Regions from separate parts of the Homo sapiens genome. Here all the other regions are linked to region 2. Evidence: fine-mapped expression QTL. A gene starts in region 2. Each other region holds a variant in brackets. All regions are shown on one strand. Distances are between the middles of the regions. Region 1 has its middle 9.8 kb from the start of LINC03078. Region 2 holds the start of CD177 (CD177 molecule). Region 3 has its middle 18 kb from the start of PSG9.

Evidence for each region.
Region 1: its variant is fine-mapped to the expression of CD177 in whole blood (INTERVAL, PIP above 0.99).
Region 3: its variant is fine-mapped to the expression of CD177 in whole blood (TOPMed, PIP 0.96).

The regions. Positions count from the first base shown.
Region 1 is chr19:43,317,774-43,325,648 of GRCh38, forward strand. No RefSeq gene overlaps it. Among named protein-coding and RNA genes, the nearest start is that of LINC03078, 9.8 kb to the right of the region's middle. The variant G/C (reference allele first, on the strand shown) is at 3,569.
Region 2 is chr19:43,349,754-43,357,628 of GRCh38, forward strand. CD177 (CD177 molecule) reads left to right here and starts at 3,933. Exons shown (of 9, transcript NM_020406.4): 1 at 3,933-4,013; 2 at 4,100-4,240; 3 at 4,454-4,639; 4 at 5,908-6,030; 5 at 6,239-6,355. The coding sequence starts at 3,962.
Region 3 is chr19:43,283,206-43,291,080 of GRCh38, forward strand. It overlaps the pseudogene CEACAMP11. Among named protein-coding and RNA genes, the nearest start is that of PSG9, 18 kb to the left of the region's middle. The variant C/A (reference allele first, on the strand shown) is at 4,495.

The sequences.
Region 1 (7,875 bases), 32 kb before region 2:
AAAATACACTGTAACATAATAACTTAGTAGATAACATGAGCCCTCTTGCATGGGAGAGCTTTTATACAACCAGAACCAGAAAATATGCATTGAAAATAACAATTGAATGAAATCTCATTATAAAATGTTTAAATGGACCAGCAGGTGACCAAGTGTACCTGAAGCTTTGATTGTTTTCCCAGGAATATGGGGCCAAACATTGGTTATAAATTCTTTTAACAATTTATAAGTCACCACACCAATATATTCCATTTGAATATTTTTATCTTTTCCATGATGAGTCATGGAATGCAGAACTTTTAATAATAAAAGCTTTAAGGACTTAGGAAGGACAAGGTGGCCATCCTGGTTCTCCATGAGTCCATGCTTAATTAATATTAGACTCATATCCTCTTGAATCATAGTTTTTCTTCAAATTATGTGCATAGCACTGATAACTGATGGGTTATCATAGGTAATTTGACTTAGACCATGACGTTCATTCAAATTGTATATCTAAGTAATTTTAATGTCAGCTGATGTAGCATGAGTGCTGATTGGTTAGGTAGGAGATGAAATCATGGGAAGTTGAAGCTGTCCTTTTTTGCTGAGTCAGTTCCTGAGTAGAGGTCACAAGATCAAATGACCCATTTTATCGATCTGGGTGGGGCCAGCTCATCCATCCATCAAGTGCAGGGTCTGCCAAATAGCTCAGACAGATCTCAGGAGCAGTTTAGAGAGGGTCAGAATCTTGTAGCCTCCAGCTGCATGACTCTTAAACCGTAATTTCTAATCTTGTGGCTAATTTGTTAGTCCCACAAAGGCAGTCTTGTCCCCAGGCAAGAAGGAGGTTCGTTTTGGGAAAGGGCTGTTATCGTCTTTGTTTTAAACTGTAAACTAAATTCCTATTAAAGTTAGTTCAGCCTATGCCCAGGACCGAACAAGGACAGCTTGGAGGTTAGAAGCAAGACGGTGTTCATTAGGTTAGGTTAGATCTCTTTCACTGTCTCAGTCATAATTTTGCCAAGATAGTTTGAGGAGAATCAAATTTTAAAGAAAGACACATAATAGTGTCACGGCTAGCCTTAAATATTCTCTTGACTAACTTACAGAGCAAAAATCTAGCCTTAAACAAAGTTAAGTTTTTTGTAATCTCAAATGACTTGCTTTAGATCTCCTGAGGCAATAAGGATTAAAGCCACTTCACCATGTCATCCAGTAGTTAAAATTCCACACTTTCACTGTTGCAGCCTGGATTCAATTACAAGTCAGAGAATGAACCGCTTTTGTTACAGGAAAAAGGTCCCAATCCATGCCCAAAGAGAGGATTCTTGGATCTTGCACGAGAAAGAATTCAGGGCAAGTCTGCAGCGCAAAGTAAAAGCAAGTTTATTAAGAAAGTAAAGTAGTGAAAGTACAGCTACTCCATAGTCACAGTAGGATGTTCTTGAAAGTAAGAGGAGGCACACACCCACCCTAGGTACAGTGCTCATATATATGGGGAGATGTACCCTGCTACAAAGGTTTGTGATAAGGATTAATTTTCTTAATTGTGATATTTTGCAAGAATCTAAGTTATTATCTTTAAAGCAAAATTAGGAATCACTTTGTTTTCCAGATATTGGGATATCTGGACACTCCCAAGTCTGGGTCTGTTTAGTAAATATTATTGATTTGTTCCCTTAACCATAAACATCTAGAGGCTAGGAATGCCTCACTTTCTGGAAATGCAGCCCAACAAGTCCCAGCCTCATTTTCCCAGCCCTCACTCAAGATGGAGTCACTCTACTTCAAATGCCTCTGCCACTTTTGTTTTGATATTTGTGTGATTTTTGAGTTTTTGTGGTACTCATTTACATCTTTGGAGATGTCTCATGCATCCTTGGCTAAGTCACAATTATGGTTAGTGCTTATCAGTTTCAGCTGGGAGGATACTTTTGGTTAAAAAAAAATTCAAAAGCCAGAAATATCAGCTGTTTGTCCTAGCTAAAATCTGATAATAAAAAATCTGAAAGTATTACAGTGGGTAGCTAGTCAGACATCAGCAGGACAGGAGGGAGCCTCCTTCCCCCACACACCAGGAATGTCATGACCATCAGGTGATTGTCAGGTGGTCGTTAACTGTCTCTCTAAAATAATAATGGGTTGTAGCTAGCACCAGGGAAAGGCAGTCTCCCAATAGACAGGAAACACCTGAAACAGTTGATCAGCTCCTTCCTGATAAGTTCTCAGAAGTTGGGTGAGTGGGCTAAAACATGTGCATTAAGAGGCAAAATGGTGGAGTTTAACTGGTTTGTGACCTCCCAGGGACATTTGACTGGAAAGAGAAGAACACCTCAAGTGAGCATGCATACAACTCCAGTAAATACACTGCGCATGTTCACCCCACCCCAAGTGCTAGCAGGCCACTGCACATGCAGACAGCCCACTCCAAAGGGAAAATAAGGGGAGAGGAGATGCAGACCCCAGAATTATGCCAACATACAAAAGCCTAAGTCAGAGGTCAAGCAATGCACTTGATCTCTTGTTGCCTGCTTGGCTTTTTTATTTTTTTATTTTTATTTATTTATTTTTTTGCAACAGAGTCTTGCTCTGTCACCCAGGCTAGAGTGCAGTGGCATGATCTCAGATCACTGCAACCTTCGCCTCCCAGGTTCAAATGATCCTCCCGCCTCAGCCTCCCTAGTAGCTGGGACTACAGGCACATGCTACCACACCCAGCTAATTTTTGTATTTTTGGTAGAGACGAAATTTCACCATGTTGGCCAGGTTGGTCTCAAACTCCTGACCTCAGGTGATCTACCCATCTCGGCCTCCCAAAGTGCTAGGATTACAAGTGTGAGTCACTGTATCCAGCCTGCTTGACTCTCTTTTAATTGTACTTTACTTCCTTTAATTCCTGCCTTAAAGCTTTTAAATAAACTTTTACTCCTGCTCTAACACTTACCTCAGTCCCTTCTTCTGCCTTATGCCTCTTAGTCAAATTACTTCTTCTAAAGAGGCAAGAATTGAGGTTGCTGAAGACGTCTACAGATTCACTGCTGCTAACATGCTTTGGTGTCATTTCTCAGCTATGTTTGGCAGCTAAGAGAAGGATTTCCCAAAACAGCTCTGTGATTAAGAGTCAGCTTAATTAAAAACTGGTATTTAAGCCATATATTTATTAATGGTATTTAAGCCATATAATTATTAATATTTATAATATTAAGCCATGTATATATTAAAATAATATATATATAAAATATTATATATATATAGAATATGTATATACACAGAATATATAAATTCATATTGGATATATATTGAGAAAGGACTTGAATGTATATTGAAGGCTTTTCTGCTTTTCTCTTTTGTATCTTTTTTTTTTTTTGAGACAGGCTGTCACTCTGTCACCCAGGCTTAAGTGCAGTGGCACAATCTCAGCTCGCTGCAACCTCCACCTCCTGGGTTCAAGGGATTCTTGGGCCTCAGCCTCTTGAGCAGCTGAGATTACAGGCACGTGCCACCACACCTGACTGATTTTTGTATTTTTACTAGAGACTGGGTTTCGCCATGTTGCTGGTCTTGAACTCCTGGCCTTGAGTAATCT[G/C]CCCGCCTCAGTCTCCCAAAGTGCTGCCATTACAGATGTGAGCCACTGCCTCTGGCCATCTCTTTTGTATCTTTGAAAGATTTTTTTTCAGTTGACTGAAATCTTTTTAAATCATGTGCTTAGTCTGTCTGGTTTTTTTCTTAAAAATTCTTTTTCTGCTTATTTCTCTTTCCATCCTTCCTCTTGCTATTCTTGATGCCACATGAGGGAACCTAAAGAATTTCTGACAGCCTGGAACCCCTTAAGGAAAACAGAAAAGATGCCACAGACTTCCCTATTTAGGAGAAACCACTGTTTTTCCTCATGGAACCCCAAGAGTTGTAAGTAAATGGATTCCTCTCAGGTCTAAAACTCTGCTCTCTTTTCCATTTTCCCTGACCTCTTTGGCTTTTGGGGGCATCAGAGATTACTTTGCACTGTAAAAATGCTTGACCTTATATGTGTGATGGCTGCTGGGTCACTGGTAAGAGCTTTGGTTTTGGAGGTGACTAACAGCGCTCGCAATAAATGATTATTACTTCAGAATGCTACTCATTTCTTTGCAAGTTTAGATAAGAAATACACAGTTTAAATAATTAGAAAAATGCCCTTATAGCAAAGTACACTGTGGAAGTGTTGCATAGTATGGTTCCATTGGCATTTTCCTCTTCTCAGGGACCTGGGATTCAGTGAAATCCTTGATTTATAAAGGTCTGGATGCTGTCCCTTGCAACTGGGTCTTCTTTTTATGTATTTAAATTATTAGGATCTAAAAGTTGCAAGACTTCGTTGGTCCTCTTCCTTAATGGGCTCTGTCCTGAGCTCAGTGGTCCAGTTGGAAAACAGAGACCAAATTAAAAGCTGCCTATCTAAATAAAATTGGTCTCCTTATAAAATCCTATGGTAAATTTCTGTCATTTTTGTGTTACCTTGGCATCTATTTTTAATCTTCCTTGAACACACACAAATTCCTTCTTGTAAAAGCTTTAGTTCTCTTTCTCTCTGTGCTTTGAGATGTAAATTTGCTACCAATTTTCTCTAAAACTCAATAAAGTCTGGCTTAATTAAATGTTAACCTCTTCCATTTACAAAGGCACAAATTTAATCCAACTGTCTTTTTTAAATACTGAATTTGATCGGTCCTATGCTGAAATCAAAACTCTAAACTCTTTCTGCCTCCCTCTATCTTTATGTGCACATGTGTATGTTATATGCTGTATCACATATATGTCTATGTCCATACATATGATTATATGTTGTTTACATACATGGTATCAAATTAATGTAAAAATAAGTACTCATAAATTAAGTAAATAATCCCAAATGCTTTTCAATACATGTGATTTTAGTAATCTTTGGTAAATAAAGATAGTTTAAAAATTATTGGTAAAATGAAGTAGAAATGTCTTCAGATTTAATTTAGACATTTGTGCCTGGGTCTGTTGGCAGACATTTTTATATTGTATTTACTAGATGTTTTAGGGTCATCATATGGTTGCTTCTGTATATATACATTTTCTTAATTTTTCTGTGACCTTATATCTTTAGATTTGAGCCTTTAGATTCTGAGTTCTAGATGAGCGACCATAGCAAGAACTGGGGACAAAACTCATCCCATCCCACAGCTGTGCCTTTTGGCCATGCTGGAAGAGATTAGATTCTCCAGGTATAATCTTCATAGCTTTGCTGTTTATCTTGGGCTTTACACCTGGTAACTAGTTAGAATTGCTTACTTCCTGTTTTTTCTCTCCTGAAAATAATGCTGTATTTGTTTGTTCTCACATTGCTACTGAGAAATACCTGAGACTGGGTAATTTATAAAGAAAAGAGGTTGAATTGGCTCATGGTTTGGCATGACTCTCACATTTGCTCAGCTTTTGAGGAGGCCTCGGGAAACTTACAATCATTGTGGAAGGCCAAGGCAGAACAAGGCATCTCACAGGTGAGAGCAGGAGGAAGACAGCAAGGGTTACACACTCTTAACCAGATCACCTGAGAACTCACTGTCACTAGGAAAGCACCAAGAGGAATGGTGTTAAACCATGAGAAACCATCCCCATAATCCAATCACCTTCAACCAGGCTCCACCTACAACTTTGGAGATTACAACTTGACATGAGATTTGAGTGGGAATATAAATCCAAAACATATCATTCTTTCCCTGGTTTCTCTCAAATCTCATGTCTTTCTTTTCATACGTGTCCGTGTGAAGAGACCACCAAACAGGCTTTGTGTGAGCAACATGGTTGTTTATTTCACCTGGGTGCAGGTGGGCTGAGTCCGAAAAGAGAGTCAGCAAAGGGAGATAGGGATGGGGCCATTTTATAGGATTTGGGAAGGTAATGGAAAATTACAGTCAAAGGGGGTTGTTCTCTGGTGGGCAGGGGCGGGGGTCACAAGGTGCTCAGTGGGGGAGCTTCTGAGCCAGGAGAAGGAAATTCACAGGGTTAATCACTCAGTTAAGGTGGGGCAGGAACAAATCACAATGGTGGAATGTCATCAGTTAAGGCGGGGCAGGGCCTTTTCACTTCTTTTGTGATTCTTCAGTAACTTCAGGCCATCTGGGCGTATACGTGCAAGTCACAGGGGATGCGATGGCTTGGCTTGGGCTCAGAGGACTGACATTCCTGCCTTCTTATATTAATAAGAAAAATAAAACAAAATAGTGTTGAAGTGTTGGGGTGGCGAAAATTTTTGGGGGGTGGTATGGAGAGAGAATGGGCGATGTTTCTCAGGGCTGCTTCAAGCGGGATTAGGGGCGGGTGGGAACCTAGAGTGGGAGAGATTAAGCTGAAAGGAGATCTTGTGGTAAGGGGTGATATTGTGGGGTTGTTAGAAGAAACATTTGTCATATAGTATGATTGGTGATGGCCTGGATACAGTTTTGTGTGAATTGAAAAACTAAATGGAATAAGAAGGAGAAAAACAGGTATAAAAGGTCTAAGAATTGGGAGGACCTAGGACATCTGATTAGAGAGTGCCTAAGGAGATTCAGCATAGTCCTGCCAGCAAAGATTATTTATTTACTTCAAGAGTTAAGAGTGGCAGTTTGGGGATAGCACGAGGAGATATCAGCTGTGATGGCTTGGAGAAACAGTGTAAACTGGCAGTGTGAACAAGAGCAGGGCATGTGTGAGTAGTTGAGAATGGAGAATAGGAATATGACTAGACAGAAAATAGTAGGGATGACAAGTTTTCTTGGGGGCACAGTCTAAGTTGGTCCAGTGTCTGGAATGAGACTGGGGCCTAATAAAAAGGAGCATCTATACAGGAGCTTAAATGGGCTGTACCTTGTAGCATTCTGAGGACAGGCCTGAATTCTGAGAAGTGAAAGTGGTAAAAGTATTGTCCAGTCCTTTTTAAGTTGGTGGCTGAGCTTGGTGAGGTGTGTTTTTAAAAGACCTTTAGTCCGTTCTACTTTTCTTGAAGACGGAGGACCGTAAGGGATATAAAGGTTTCACTGAATACTAAGAGCCTGAAAAACTAATTGGCTGATTTGACTAATAAAGGCTGGTCTGCTATCAGACTGTATAGAGGTGGGAAGGCTAAACTGAGGAATTATGTCTGACAGAAGGGAAGAAATGACTGTGGTGGCCTTCTCAGACCCTGTAGGAAAGGCCTTTACTTATTCAGTGAAAGTGTCTATTTAGACTAAGAGGTATTTTAGTTTCCTGACTCGGGCATGTTGAGTAAAGCTAATTTGCCAGTCCTGGGTGGGGGCAAATTCTCGAGCTTGATGTGTAGGGAAGGGAGGGGGCCTGAATAATCCCTGAGGAGTAGTAGAATAGCAGATGGAACACTGAGAAGTTATTTTCTTGAGGATAGATTTCCACGATGGAAAGGAAATGAGAGGTTCTGAGAGGCAGGCTAGTGGCTTGTACTATAGCATAGCCTGCATTTGCTGGTATGTGGCGATTAGGCCTGGTGGAACTGCCATCAATAAATCAAGCGTGATCAGGGTGAGGAATAGGAAAGAAGGAAATACAGGGAAATGGGGTGAATAGCAGGTGGATCAGAGAGATACAGTCATGGGGGTCAGGTGTGGTATCAGGAATAATGTGGGAGGCCAGATTGAAGTCCGGGCCAGGAACAGTGGTAATTGTGGGACTTAACAAAGAGTGAGTACAGCTGAAGGAGCCGGGGAGCAGAAAGTGTATGCGTCAGGTATGAGGAAGAAAATAGATTTTGGAAGTTGAGAAATGTAGAGAGTGAGTTGAGCATAGTTTGTGATTTTCAGGGCCTCTAAAAGTATTAAAGCAGCGGCAGCCGCTGCACACAGACATGAGGGCTAGGCTAAAACAGTAAGGTCAAGTTGTTTGGACAGAAAG
Region 2 (7,875 bases):
GAGACAGGTCTCCATCAACTTAGAAGCTTATTTTGCCAAGGTTAAGGACATAGAAAAAACCATGCAATCATAGAAACAGTCTGTGGTCTGTGCCTTTTTCCAAAGATAATTTTGAGGACTTCAATATTTAGGGTGGAAAAGCTGGCTGGCGGTGAAAGAAGGAGGGTGTGGTCGCATTACTGAATCCACATGGTGTAAGAGAAAGCAGGAGGTAGGGGAATAATCAATCACGTATTCATCTCACGCTCAGTAAATTGGCACCTTGAGAAAGATAAGGTGAATATGGCCGGGCGTGGTGGCTCACACCTGTAATCCCAGCACTTTGAAAGGCTGAGGTGGGAGGATCTCATGAGCCCAGGAACTTGAGACCAGCATGGACAACATGGCAAAACCCATCTCTACAAAAAAAACCACAAAAATTAGCTGGGCGCGGTGGTGGGTGCCTGTAGTCCCAGCTACACGGGAGGCTGAGGTGACAGAATGACTTGAGCCCGGGAGACAGAGGTCGCAGTGAGCCAAGATCGTGCCACTGCGCCCCAGCTTGGGAGACAAAGTATGATACTCTCTCAAAAAAAAATAAATAAGTAAAAATTTTTTTAAAGAAAGATAAGATGAACATAGAGTAGCTACCTACGGAGATACTTAACCTTTTCTCTGTAGCTGTCTGCTTAGGAACAAAAGGAAAGGCAGTTTCTTGCATGACTCAGCTTCCAGTTTTTTTTTTTTCCTTCTGTCACAGTGAATTGGGGTCCTGAGTTTTTGTTTCTCTTTCATAAAGACAACGCAGTGCAGTTCATGCTTGACCCCGGATGTTCTCCTGATCAGAAAGCAAAAACGCAATGAGAGATGTCATTGGGACAACAGAGGAAAACTGGAAATGGGCTTCCTATTAGACAACAGTGCATCTGTGTAAACTACACGGGTCTGATCCTGGTCTGTGGTTACGCAGGACAAAGTCCTTAAGAATAATCTATATAGGCTGGGCGTGGTGGCTCACACCTGTAATCCTAGCACTTTGGGAGGCCGAGGCAGGTGGATCACCTGAGGTCAAGAGCTCAGGACCAGCCTGGTCAACATGGTGAAACCCTGTCTCTACTATAAATACAAAAATTAGCCGGACGTGGTGGCAGGCGCCTGTAATCCCAGCTACTCGGGAGGCTGGGACAGGAGAATTGCTTGAACCTGGAGGGCGGAGGTTGCAGTGAGCAGAGATCACGACACTTCACTCCAGCTTGGGTGAGAGAGCAAAACTGCATCTAAAAAAAAAGAGAGAGAGAGGAAAAAAAAGAATGATATATGCTTTTTAAAAATTTTTTTATTTATTTATTTTTTGTGATGGAGCCTGGCTCTGTCACCCAGGCTGGAGTGCAGTGGTGTGATCTCGGCTCACTGCTGCAACCTCCACCACCAGCTTCAAGTGATTCTCCTGCCTCAGCCTCCCAAGTAGCTGGGATTACAGTTGTGTGTCACCATGTCCAGCTAATTTTTATATTTTTAGTAGAGATGGGGTTTCACCATGTTGGCCAGGCTGGTCTTGAACTCCTGACTTAAAGTGATCCTTCCAAAGTGCTGGGATTACAGGTGTGAGTCACTGTGCCCAGCCCCCTTAAGAATAATCTTAAGAAGGTTCTTGCTGAAGCACTTAGTGGTGAGAGTTACAATGTCTACTCCTTGTTTTTAAAATTTAAGAATATTTTAAAAGCATATGTTGTGTGTGTATAAACAGATACAATAAAATGTGAAGAGTGGGTGAATCCAGTGAAGGGGATACTTGTGTTCACTGTACTATCCTTGCAACTTTTCTGCCGGTTTGAAATTTTTCCGTCTTTTTTTTTGAGATGGAGTCTTACTCTGTTGCCCAGGCTGGAGTGCAGTGGTGCGATCTCGGCTCACTGCAACCTCTGCCTCTTGGGTTCAAGCGATTCTCCTGTCTCAGTCTCCGGAGTAGCTGGGACTACAGGTGGCTGCCACTACACCGGGCTAATTTTTGTATTTTTTTTTTAAGTAGAGATGGGGTTTCACCGTGTTGTCCAGGTTGGTTTCAATCTCCTGACTTCAATAGATCCACCCGCCTTGGCTTCCCAAAGTGCTAGGATGACTGGTATGAGTCACCGCTCCCAGCCTGAAATTTTTCAAAATGAAAACACCGCAGGTCAGGAGTTTGAGACCAGCCTGAACAACATAGTGAAACCCTGTCTCTATTGAAAATACAAAAATTAACCAGACATGGTGGTGTGCACCTGTAGTCCCAGTTACTCGGGAGGCTGAGGTGGGAGAGTTGCTTGAGTCCAGGAGATGGAGGCTGTAGTGACCTGCAGTGAGCTACAACTGCACCACTGTACTCCAGCATAGGTGAGAGCAAGACTCTGTTTCTAAAAAAAAAAAAAAATTACTGGGCATGTACTGTATGCCATGTAGGTGGTGGAGACATAGCAGGAGATCAGACAAACACTTCCCTGTCTGTGTGGCAAATATTAAACTTGCAATAAACTTGCAAAGACAAATAAAGATAAAATTTATAGAGATGTCAAAAATAAACATATAATTGCAAGTCACATTCATTTCTCTTTCTCTGCTATTCCTGCTCTCGCCTTCCCTCTTCTGCTTCTCCTCTCTCCGTCACAGACACCCACAACGTCCCTCTGCAGTCACTGACAGATACCCCAGGTTCCTTCCTGTCTTCCTCCCCGCCACCCCAGTGTGTTACAGCTGATTTGTACAGCCCTGGACAAGCCCATGGTTAAATAGCTAGGGATTTCATCAGCCTGGTTGGCAAACTGTAGGTAGCTTAAAATCAGACATGCTATGAGTATTTACACCAGAGAAATAGGCCAACACTACGAGGCAGGATTTGTGGGTATTGTTTTTCAGAAAACTTGGTTTTTCAGCACAACACTGCTCTCCCATCGGCTTCCAGCAAATAAATGTTGCATTTTTCAGATATATCCTAATTCTTTCATAGATATTCAGTCTCTACTCCACCTCTGGCCAAGCCTTTCCTGGTGGTAGGAAACTGGGGACTTGAGTCCTATGTTGTACTGTGAGGGTAGAGAATAGAAGAGAAAGCATGAGAGAAAAGCATGAAAAGAAGAATCAAAAGAAAGCAATATAAGAAGGAAAGAGAAAGAACAGAGAAGTGGGAAGACAGTGGAGGGTAGAAACTAGGACCGGAAGACATGGGGACAAGCTGATGCCCACTGCACAACGTCCTCACAGGTAGTTGGGCCATTTCCCCATCTGGGGTACAGAGGTGGCCAGGGAGCCCATGAGAAATGAGGAAACTGCCTTCCCAAACTACTGGAGAAAGAGGGTGGGGGTGGTGATCCACATAGCTGGGCTCAGGAGGAAAGAGGGCTGGGAGTCTGGACCGGGGGAACCTCGGGTCAAGATGCCACAGTTTCTAACTATGGAGGGCCTGGGGGCCTGGACTCCTGGGTCTGAGGGAGGAGGGCCTGGGGGTCTGGACTCCTGGGTCGGAGGGAGGAGGGCCTCGGGGCCTGGACTCCTGGGTCTGAGAGAGGGAGGCCTGGGGCCTGGACTCCTGGGTCTGAGGGAGGAGGGGCTGGGGGGCTGGACTCCTGGGTCTGAGGGAGGAGGCACTGGGGGCCTGGACTCCTGGGTCTGAGGGAGGAGGGACTGGGGGCCTGGACTCCTGGGTCTGAGGGCGGAGGGGCTGGGGGTCTGGACTCCTGGGTCTGAAGGAGGAGGGGCTGAGGGGCTGGGGGTCCTGGACCCTCCATCTGAGGGAGGAGGGGCTGGATGCCTGGACCCGAAGGTCTGAGGAAGAAAGGGGGTCCCTGATAGGCCACTGCGGCCATTGAGACTTGGGGTGGGGCCCAAGCCTCCATTTTGCAAGGCCCTCCCCTCCCCACCCTTTTCTGGGCTGGCTGCTTAAGGGCTGGTATAAAGGACTTGTTTCCTGCTGAAAAAGCAGAAAGAGATTACCAGCCACAGACGGGTCATGAGCGCGGTATTACTGCTGGCCCTCCTGGGGTTCATCCTCCCACTGCCAGGTGAGTGATGAGCCCAGCCTGGAGGAGATTCCCTGGAGGCCGGGCAAGGGAACCCTGCTGAGATGGATTTGCTCTTGCCACTCCAGGAGTGCAGGCGCTGCTCTGCCAGTTTGGGACAGTTCAGCATGTGTGGAAGGTGTCCGACCTGCCCCGGCAATGGACCCCTAAGAACACCAGCTGCGACAGCGGCTTGGGGTGCCAGGACACGTTGATGCTCATTGAGAGCGGTGAGAAGGCCCTGGCGTGCAGAGACCCCGCCCTGTCCCCTCAGTCCCTTGATCCCTGTGCAGGGACCCGGGAGCCACCCCTCCGGGGGATCGACTCCTAGGGTCCCGGTGATCCCCTTTCCAGCCTCTCAGCCTACGCCGTGTAGCAGCGTCTCCCTCCAGGACCCTGGAGGCCTGACCTCCATCCTCGCTTGCCTCCCTCTTTCGGTCCAGGACCCCAAGTGAGCCTGGTGCTCTCCAAGGGCTGCACGGAGGCCAAGGACCAGGAGCCCCGCGTCACTGAGCACCGGATGGGCCCCGGCCTCTCCCTGATCTCCTACACCTTCGTGTGCCGCCAGGAGGACTTCTGCAACAACCTCGTTAACTCCCTCCCGCTTTGGGCCCCACAGCCCCCAGCAGGTGCCTGCGGGAGGGTCGGGAGGAGAGGGAGGGGCTGCTAGAAGGGGATCCGCTGAGCACAGAGGGGCTGTTACGGAGTCCCTCCCACCCTCGCTCGCTATCCCGACCCTCGCTGGCTCCATCCCTCCCCTGACTGCTCCCTGACCATCGCCCCGCCCCGCTCCCTTTCCATCCCTCCCCACTCACTCCCGATCCCTCCCACCGACCTGCCACCCGGGAATCCCCGCACCCCTCCTCTTCTAAGAGCAAACAGGACGGATTTCTGATATGAAATCACCATTAACTGGGTTATCCTGCATTCTTTTTTTATTCTGTTGCGTTTGGTTCAAGAAGTTCTCCTGCAGGGTTTTTGCTATTTCCTCTTCCTAAGGGAGACTGAACTGTAACTTTCCACTTTCCTTGTCTGGTGTTATAAAGAGTCTAGGGAGATATTTTGCGCTTCTTTTATTGGAACAGCTTGTGAACACAGAAGTCTCCTGTTCTTGGAGGTTTAGTAGCGCTTGCAGGTGAAGGCACTGGCTCGTTCCAGGGCACCCCCTCATTCCCTTGACCAATGAGTCTGCTTCTGTGTCTCCCCTCGGAAGGCCAGACTTTGTTGAAAGGTTCAGACTTGACCATGTCTGAGTCTACATTTGGCCTCAGCAGGCCCCTCCTCCACCCTGCCCACCCCCCACCCCCACTTGCCACCCAAGACACCCCCCCTTTTCTTTTCTTTTTTTTTTTTTTTTTTTTTTTTTCTGAGAAAGCGTCTCGCTGTGTCGACCAGGCTGGAGTGCAGTGGCGCAATCTCGGCTCACTGCAACCTCCGACTCCCGGGTTCAAGCGATTCTCCTGCGTCAGCCTCCCACGTAGCAGGGACTAGAGGAGCCTGCCACCACGCCCGGCTAATTTTTGTATTTTTAGTAGAGACAGGGTTTCACTATGTTGCCCAGGCTGGTCTTGAACTCCTGACCTCGTGATCCACCTGCCTCAGCCTCCCAAAGTGCTGGGATTACAGGTGTGAGTCACCACACCCAGCCAAGACCACTTTCTGTACCCAGCCCTGGGTGCCTCTACCCAGACCTCCTGTTCATTCTCCCTTCCTCTTTTATGGATTACACTTCTTTATTTTCCCACATCCAGATCCCATGATGGGAGCTGCAGAAGGCCCCTTTGGGAAGGCTGAGCAGGTTGACTCTTGAGGCCAGCAAAAGTGGGGTGCAGAGAAGGTATCTGATCAAATCCAGTGCCCTCTCAGTGCCCCCTCACTCTGTCTGTCACTTTCCTAGACCCAGGATCCTTGAGGTGCCCAGTCTGCTTGTCTATGGAAGGCTGTCTGGAGGGGACAACAGAAGAGATCTGCCCCAAGGGGACCACACACTGTTATGATGGCCTCCTCAGGCTCAGGGGAGGTAAGCCTGGGACATCGGGGTCCCTGTGGGGACTGAACTGGAAGGTCTGGGGACTGAGATCTTAGGCTTTGGGGAGTGAGGTGAGCTGAGGCACGGCATGAGACCCAGAGGAGGGTGGGCCTGGCTTCCTGGAGCTATGCCTGCCTCTGAGGGTTGGGTGGTCCTGGAGGCAGCATCACTGACTCTCCCTCGCTCCCCCTTTCTGCAGGAGGCATCTTCTCCAATCTGAGAGTCCAGGGATGCATGCCCCAGCCAGTTTGCAACCTGCTCAATGGGACACAGGAAATTGGGCCCGTGGGTATGACTGAGAACTGCGATATGAAAGGTGAGTCCTGCCCCTAGGCTGTGCCCTGGACTGCAGCCTCGGGGCACGATGACACATGGGGCATCCAGAGCCATCACACCAAAGCCAGCAGGAGGAAGGTCAAGGGTGCAGGGTGGGTTGCTTGGCATGTGGCTTTAGGCAACAGTGAGTGCTGGGGCCCCTGCTGGCTCTCAAGCTGCTGAGAGTGACTGGTTGCTTCAATTTCTGTGTCTCCACACCCCTGGCCTTGGGTAACCCTAGGTCTCCCACTTCCCTAGGCCACCGTAGCCTCTCTCCCACCCGTATCAGCCCCCGCCCCGCTCATGGTGCTGGAGTGCCCCAGCAGCCTTGCCTGCACAGGAGAGAACATCAGAGAGAAAATCAAGGGGACTTTGGGTGTGACAGAGAAAGCAAGAGTTAAAGGAGGACACTGAGAGGGTCCCCACTTACCCATTTAGGTGCTGCCATGGAAGAGAGTGCCAGGGAATGTCTCCATAAGAAGGGCTCCAAAGCAACAGGAAGCCATGGTGGGGAGGTGGGGGTCTTATAGGAATCCCAGCTTCCCTCCTAGAAGCAAAGTCTTCCCTGCCCCTGCCTCAGTTTCCTTGTCTGCCCACATCACGCTAACCCTTAGAGCTTAGAAGAGAGAGTTGTGTGAGCTCTGCACACATTCCTCTGTGTATTTGGCTGTTTCTCCCTAGCTAGGCTGGGAGCCTGAGGCTAGGGGCTTGGTACCACTGGCACCAGGGTTTCCAGCCTTGGGTAGCTCAGGAGACGGCTCAGGAAGGGTACCAGGAGGTGTTTGCTCAAGTGAGGACATGCAGGGCTCACTTGAGCAAAGCTCCCTCATGAGTCAGACCCTGTTTCTACCTGAAGGGCCTCCAGGACTAGGAGGGGGAGGTGCTACAGACACAGATGGTCACAGCTTGAGGTGATCAGGGCTGTGGCAAACGGGGATGTGGGGCCTGGGGCAGCTCAGAGGAGGAAAATACTGATGTTGTTGGGGTAGAGAGTCAAGGAGGGCTTTACAGAGGAGGTGGCCTGTGAACCGTGTGTTAAAGATGACCTACAGCTTATTGGTAGAAGAGGAAGAGGACATTGGTGGCAGAGGGAACAGTGTGTAGCAGCTGCATAGGCCTGGAGGTGGGAGTGAGCCTGCTGTTTTCAAGAAGAGTCCCTCACTCCACCTGAGAAGGACTCATCAAGATGAGGGGGTACAGCTGGGATTGGGGGTGATTCGAAGTTTTCCAGGTGGACAAGGTGGGTGTGGGGTCGAAGAGGGAGCTGCTCCAAGCCAAAGGCACAGCAGGTGTGAGGCTGAGGAGGAAATGAACTGGCATGCCTTCAGAATGGATACTGGTGGGGGAGGAAGAGTTAAGTGGGGAACCTGGTGGTCGCTCAAGTACCTGAAAACCCAGGCTGAGGGGTGGACCCTCTCCTGAAGGCAGGGGAGCCATGGAAGATTGTGGAGCAGGGAGGGCAGGGTCTGAGCCATTTATCTTTCCTTTTGACTGATGCTGCTGTTAAGGATCTGGCCCTGG
Region 3 (7,875 bases), 67 kb before region 2:
CATTTCCCTACATTTCTCAGGCTGGACCCAAGGTCATCCACCAGAAATCTGGAAAACAAAGGGAAGAGAATCTGTAGATATGAATTGGGAGTGTTCAGGAGAAAAATTTGGGATTTACTTTTGTGCATGGGACACAGGCTGAGAATAAAAATGTTTTCCTGGCTCTTTCTTGGAAAGCCAGATAGGCTTCACCTGAAAGCATATTGCCAATGCTCCAGCGATCCACTTACCAGGGACTGTGATTTTCTTGGTTGCGAAGTTTTTGCCATTAGTGACTGGGTTATGGACATAACACAGATAGTCCCCACTATTCTCTGTAGTGACTTGGGGGATAAAGAGCTCTTGTCCTGTTTGCTGGTTATTCCCATTCAGCAGCCAAGAATACTCTGCTGATGGGTTAGAGCCCATGAGGCAGGAGAGGTTGAGGTTTGACCCTGCATAGTAATAGGTGTCTGAAGAATAAGTTGTGGGTTCATCTGGGCCATCTGGAGCAAAGAGAATAAAGCCACAGGTAATGTTATCAGAGGGAATGGGAAGCTCCTGGTCTGTGAAAGGGACACAATGTTCCTTTTTGCCAAGTCACAACCCTGAAGTCCCAGCCAAATTTCTTCTGTGTTCACTGAACTGGAGGAGTCTAAGACATTCACGTGTTCTCCCATCGCAAGCTATGGAACCAGAGTCCCCTAAGACCGGAGAAGCCCCTCCCTTCCTGGGCCTACCCAGGTTTGCCTGGGACAGAAAGTCATGGCCAGCTTGGGGGTCCAGGGGTAAGTGTCTTCATACTTGGACCTGAGAGGGACTGAGAGGCCTGGCCTCGTGTTATGTGGATTTGGGCTGGCAGCCTTGTCCATGAAGGAAAAGAGGATACTCACAGAGAACATCCAGGTGACTGGGTCACTGTGGCTGGTACTCACTACATTCTTCCTTTGACATTCATAGAGTCCTGTGTCACTCCTTGTGACACTGAGTAGAGCAAGGACCCTGTTATCATTGGACATCTTTAGCCTGGGACTGAGTGTGAGTCTATGACTATTTACCCACCACATGTAGATTGTGCCATGAGTCTCAGGTTCACAGGTTAAGACCACAGCCTCCTCATCCTCCGCGGGGTTGCTGGTGACATAGGGCTTGGGCAGATTCACTGTGCAGATAACAGAGAAGATTCCCCTGTGTGGCACCATTGATTTCTCCACGAGCATTTTCCAATCAGAGTTGACATCTCCCACCTCTCAGCCAATCCAAGTCCTTAAAAGCCCACAGCAGTTCTGTGTGTCAAAAGACAGATGGATGCATGATGATCTGAGGGCTCAGAGACCATGGGGCCACCTGCTCTGTGTGGGAGATGCACAGACTTCTGAACTGTGAATCAAGCAGCAATACTGGTGAACTGTGAATTGAGCAGGGTCATATAATTAGAGTTTGATTAACTTTGTTTAAATTGGGCAGAGTCTAAGTGAGGCAGCAGTGGCTCATGCATCTCCCCACCCGAAGGACCCCACCTTATGACACTGTTGTTATTATGAGTACACAGGTGTGCATGAAACAGGCAGTAAATCAAACAGCACCCACCTGGCCAGCTCCACCTGGTCCTAGGAACCACCAGTATTCCCATTATGTGTATGTTACAGCCTTTGTAGGCTACAAAATATAAAATACAACTTCAGAATATAAAATATGCTATTGTCAATACCAAATATTGAATATGAAGCTGAATATGTTGTTCCACTTTTTCTCACTCTTGTTAAACTTTGCTGTTTCAGTTTTGGAAGTTCCTATTGACACACACTTAAGCTAGAGATTCTTTCCTCAGCTGTGGGCAGCCTACCAGTAAGCCCATGCAGGGCATTCTTTATTTCGCTTAAAGTGTTTTTAATCTCTAGCATTTCTTTTGCTTCTTTCTTAGAATAGCCATCTCTCTGTTTAAATCACCCATCTATTCCTGAAAGGTGTCTCCTTTTTCCATCATAATCCTTAACCAGAGTTGTTTTAAATTTTCAGTCTGATAATTTCAACATCCCTACCACATCTGTGTCTGGTTCTGATCCTTGCTCTGTTTTTCAAACTGCATTATTTTTTTTTTTTTTTTTGCCATAGTCTGTCTTGTATTTTTTTGAAAACCACACATGATGTACTGGGTAAAAGGGACTTGAGTGAGCAGGCATTCAGTGACATGGTGGTGAGTGAGGGGAGGGAAGGGTTCTGTGGTTCTGGATGAGATCTGTGTCCTGGGCTGTGAATGTCACAAGTGCCTCTCAGGTTTTTCTTTCCATTAGGTGGGATATGATGACTTGAGGAGGCTGGAGTTGGATATTTCCCCTCCCCCTGGCCAGTTAAGCTCCCATCAAACCCCAGCTAATTAGGCTGCAGTAAAATAGTTCCTCTTAAATGTAGGTCTTACCAAGAAGAATATAATTCACTGACAACTTTCCAAGTGTTTTTTTCCCTTCTCTCCTACAAGAAGGATGCAGGGATTCTTTTTGGATATTGACTGTGAGAACCTGGTAGAGCTCCAGGAGCTAAGAGTCATAAAACTGTCCCCCTACTCCCAAGGCTAATTCATCCACTGGTGTGTTTATCTCTGCGCTGTGTCCACACTGAGCCTCCAGAATTTCCTCAATTAGAGTTGAGGTTTTCTGACCCCAGCACTGGTTCCCGCTGAGGTTTCTGTGCCTGTGTTTCTGCTCAGGTACGGTGCGCTGCTCTGTATTTGCCTGTGGGTCTCTTCAATATGTGGGCCAGTTAGCACTGAGACCTTGCTTCTCTGACAAATCTAAATGAGTTGTTGTTTTTTCAGTTTGTTCAGCTTTTTACTTGTTGTTAGAACTGAGTGAAAATTTTTAAGCTACTTACATGCCTGGCGGAAATTCGAAGTCTCTAGGGCATGACTGGAGGATATGAGCCCCACAGCAGGTTGAGGATGGAGTCATGAGTGAAATGGGTGAAATGAGCCCATGGGCTTTGGAAACTGCAGGTCTGTCCTTCAGCGTCTGACCACCTGGTGAGTCTATGTAGAAAGTGAAACCACCTTTGCAAAGCATATGATGGTGAGAGGAAGCTAGCTTGGCTGACCCCATCTCACCTCTAGCCTCAGGCTGGGTGTCCTCTCTGATTCTTGGGCATAGGCCAGGGTAAGCATGGAAGGAATTTATAGTTTAACTTTGACGCAAGGATGATAATAGTCCCTCCCTAAAATTAGCTCCCTCCTTGTCGGGGACTACCGTGGTAAATCTAAGAAAAGACCATGAATTATGCAGGAGCCCAAATTCTGCTAAAATGCAGGCATAGTTTCTATAATCCCTTACTGCTCAGGAGTCATGTGTCCAGAGGTCACAAGATTTGTGACTTTCCTAGTTGCTCCTATAGATAGCAACACTATTGTAGAATCTGAGATTTGTCTTTGGAGATGTTTCTCAGATTTTTGCATTCCGGCAACCAGCTGACCTCATCTAGACTCATGACCAATGGCTCAACCAGTCATGTGGCCCCCCACTCAGAGGCAGATTCAACAAATACAGACCATTTCCCCTACCGGCATCATTTCATCTTTAGCCAGTCAACAGTACTTATTCCTTAGAACTTTGCCCCTCAAAGTTTTTGAAAAACTCTAACCTCTGAGCCACTGGGGAAGCTGATTTGAGTCATAATAAACTTCTATCCTCCTGTTTGGCAGCCTTGGGCTAAGCAAAACCATTTTTTACTACACATCACCTTCACAATAAATTGGCTTTGCCTGCGCAGAGGGCAAGAACCTGTCAGGTGATTATAAGAATGGATGGAGGAGTCACTGATCTCTTTCTGGTGGCCTGTTTCATGAGTCAGCCTCTCAGAGGGAAAGAGCCCTGGACTGCGACACAGTGGAAGCTCATTCTCTTGGTGACCCAGGGACATTGCCTTATTATGGATCCTGGCAGGGGTGGCTGCTTTGGCTGATTTTGGTGCATTTTACATTTCCCAGAAGGCAGGACAGGCCTAAGTGTGAGCAGAAAGGAAACGGGGCAGTCAGCTTTGTTAGAGAGGGTGTCTGGGGAAGTCCTCAGGGTGGAGGAAGCTGTGCAGGACAGGGCTCATCAGGTAGAATGAAAGAGGGATGCACTTTTTTCACTGAACACCTTTCAGACATCTCACCAACTCTGGCCTCACTGGGCTGTGCCTTTCCTCCTGAGCCCTGAGCCCTGATTCCTGGCAGGGAGGGAGAAAGAGAGGAAGGGTGAAGCTGGGATGTGTGCTGTCCAGGTTTCTTCCATCTCTAGAATCTTGACAGCGAGGGACCCTAATGTGTTACCACAGAGGAGACCATGGGAAAAAGCTGTTTCTCAGGGGTGCCTGGCTTATGAAGTGAGGGAAATTCAGACCGAGTTGGACTCCTGAACTACAGGGAACCTGTTCCATGTCAGCAACCAGCTCCTCTAGCTCAGTGTTTCTCTCTGTGGCTAATTCTTTTGTATGGTTTCTGAGCCTATGCTAGAGTCCTCCTCACGATGCATGATGGTCAGA[C/A]CTGTGTGGGGAGACCTAATGATGGGGTGGGGGTGGTCTTGAGTGTCACACAGAGTGTCCAGGGAACAGGCTTTGTGACTTTCTCTACCCCAGCCCCACAACAAGATCTGGATAGTGGGCTGGGTCAGATAAAGTCAGAATCCATGGGGAAGGGTATGTGTCCTGGCAGTGCCGAGGTTCGTGCCTCCAGGTTAGCTCTGAGTCTCTGCAAATACATTTATGTTGTGCATGTGCTGTTTGCTGGACGGTACTTCTTGAACCTGTCTGCAGATAATGTCATGAGAGGTCTGCATGGAAGTGTATGAGGGCTATGTGATTAGGGTGGGTGTGTTTTACACAGCGGGTTTTTTTTTCACCAAACACTTTTCAAAAAATTGTGGTTGAGTGTGTATATAGAAACACATACATACTTGTATTTGTTAGATGTGAATATATATTCATATAAATTTGACATGTAGATACATATGTCTATAAATATACACACATATATATGTGTGTATGTATATGTGTATATGTATATATATGTATGTGTGTGTGTGTATATATATATATGTGTGTATATATATAATGTGCCATTTTAACCACTTAACTTAAGGAGAGAGATAGAGGGAGAGAGAAGAGAGTTTCTACTAATACCAAATCTGGGTTAAATAAGGGTGGTCTTATTTCCTGGGGTTGGGCTTTTGCTACATGTGTCCTGTTGGAAGTGAGCTAGAGAGGTTACATGCTTAACCAATTTAGAGATTTTCTATATGAAAATCATCTGTGAGCACATTGATAAGTTTTATCCTCTTCTACGTGAAAAGCTTGATGAAGGATTTTAAGGATTTCTCGTTGGCTGAAGGCTGGCAAACGGAGTTTGCCATCCTCTGACTACAGCCATTCTGAGGACTGGAAAGGATACCCTGAGAAGTGGCCTATTTTATTTCTGCAGGAAGGTACTGAGGTTTAATTTATCTTATGGAGTCTTCCTAGATTAGAAGGCTTTGAGGTGTGTTGATGCCTTGCCAGTGACTTAGCTGCCTGATCAGTGAACCTATTTCTTTTGGCTACTTCATCTGTTCCCTTTTTGATGTTCTCTATAATGTATCACTGCTATTTCTCATGAAAGAAAACTGACGATAATAACCTGTTAATTTTTTGGTGATATTTTATAGGAAGTCCATTAGTGGTAAGAAAATGCCTTTTATTTTAAATGGCAGCATGAGCATGAAGAACTCAAAAAGCATACTTGGAATCAGTGTAAATGTTAGCTACCTTTCCCTTGCTTAATTTAAGTGCTCTTGTATTAACTGTTTGTTTAGCTGATTGAGCACCTGCACCTGAAGAGAGATATTATTTAGAGTGACTACTGCTTATCCTACCTTACGTATTTCTTGCTTTACCAGCTGATTGTTAGCTAAGAGCTCCCTCTAGAGGAAAGTAATTTTGCCACATTAAGTGGGGGTGTAAACCGTTTTTTCCTAGGGTTAATTTGGAGGCTTTTCTGATTAGTAGAGCTATTGTGACAGTGGTTTGGAAGCAGATGTAAAAAATAGGTCCTCCTAACTGCAAATAAGAGGCTGAGAAAAATATTGGATTAGAATTTTTCCTGAGACACCCCTTATGGTTGTGCTATGGGAAGAGGGGAGGCCTGGATAAGAAAGGAGAAAAGAGAGAGACTAGATCTAGTGTTTAGAAGGAGGTCTACTTTCCTCCCTATAATTTCCAGAATGACCTGTGTCTCCTGTGCTGTAATGGCAGTTTGAGCTGCTGGAGCCAGGGGTTTGAGCCCCAGGACCCATCAGTCCTGCTGGACCACTGTGAGACTGGTTCTGAACCCAGTGACCTCCATCTCTGGGAGCAGTTGCATCTCCAGTGGTCTCCACCACAGGCTGGACAGGGTCAAGGTGGCTTCCTCTTGCTCTTTGGACACTTCTTCCTCAAATGCCCTGGCTTGCCACACCGAGAGCAACTAGTGGATACACCTCTGGGATCCTGGACTTTGCAACTCTGCAAAGCAGCTACTAGAGGCTTTGTCCTTCTCTTGAGCTTTCTCTCTTTCTTCTGGGCCTTCTCCTAGTCCCTATTATAAAAGACTGAAGTGGCTACCCTCAGAAGGTTTTCCAAGGTGCTATCTGCTACTATAGCTTGCCTTTTATAGGTTCCTTCTAATATTGGGAGCTTTATGTATAATAAACTTATCTTTTGGAATGGGCTGTCACTTGACTGAATCAGGAGATAAAAAGGTGTGTGCTAATAGTGCCCCTCTCAACCTATCCATAAAGGCTGCAGGATTCTCATCTGGCTTTGAGTCTATCCTAGACAGTTTAGAGGAATTAAGAGGTCTGGCCTTAGTTTTTCTTTTTCATTCATCTACAGGGCTATTGGGGTTTCAATCAGGGTTGTCAAGAGGTACTGCTTCACTTACTATTTGGAATGGTGTTTCTGCTATTTCTTCACTTTCTGTATCTCCTTCCTTCCCTTTTGGTGTATTATAGGAGATATGTTGCTCATCTCCAAAATTCTCTGCTGCTTGCAGAGCTGCCTGTTTTTCAGCTGCAGTTAGGGTTTGGATTAGGAGCAGTATAACATCCTTCCATGTGAGGTGAAACACCTGACTTAAATTCTGGAAAGCTTCTATATACCTGTCAGGATTGTCTGAAAATTGGCCTAAGTCTTACTTTATTTGCCTAAGGTCCTGTAATGAGAAGGGAACTTGGAGGGACCCCAAATTATGGAGATTCTCAGATGGTTCCCTTGGAAGTTGCTTTTCTAATTCTAGGATATTATTCTTTATAAGCCTGCCTGATATGGCTGTTAAAAAATCTGGGTTGCTGTTACAATGCTTGTAAAGGTTTAGTAAAAATGCCCTGTCATTTTGCAAAATAGAATGAGTTGCTTTTCTCTTGAAAGTCCTGAGGTTAAAAGAGTTCTAGTGCCTCAGAGTGCGCTCCAGAGGGGTGCAAGCTGAAGATGCTCTGTTAGCCATTGAGAAAAAGAAGTGAGAATAAAAGTGTCCTTATAGTCCTCCTTATTTCATTGAGACCCAGAGTGGAGTGGAAGACAGTGGGAGCGTCCCCCCAACTGTTTTCTCTCCTTGGTTCCTGAGTCCCGGCACTATGTTAAATGTGCTGCCCATGGTTGTAGGTGTGGCCCTGTAAGCCATGGAACTAGATAAATGAAGTGATGGGATTAGCCACACTTTACCCATGCAACATTAGCTTATCTGCCTGTGATCTGCCTGGCTTCCTGAAAAATGGATCTCTCGAGAAACTGTAACAGTTGCCTTTGAGCAAGCTTTCTTTAACAGAGGGAATGTGCCAGTTGCCAGATACGTGCTAAAGCATTTACCCTCAGAAAAGTGGTCCTGGTTAACTCTGTTCTTAAAGTATCCTTACT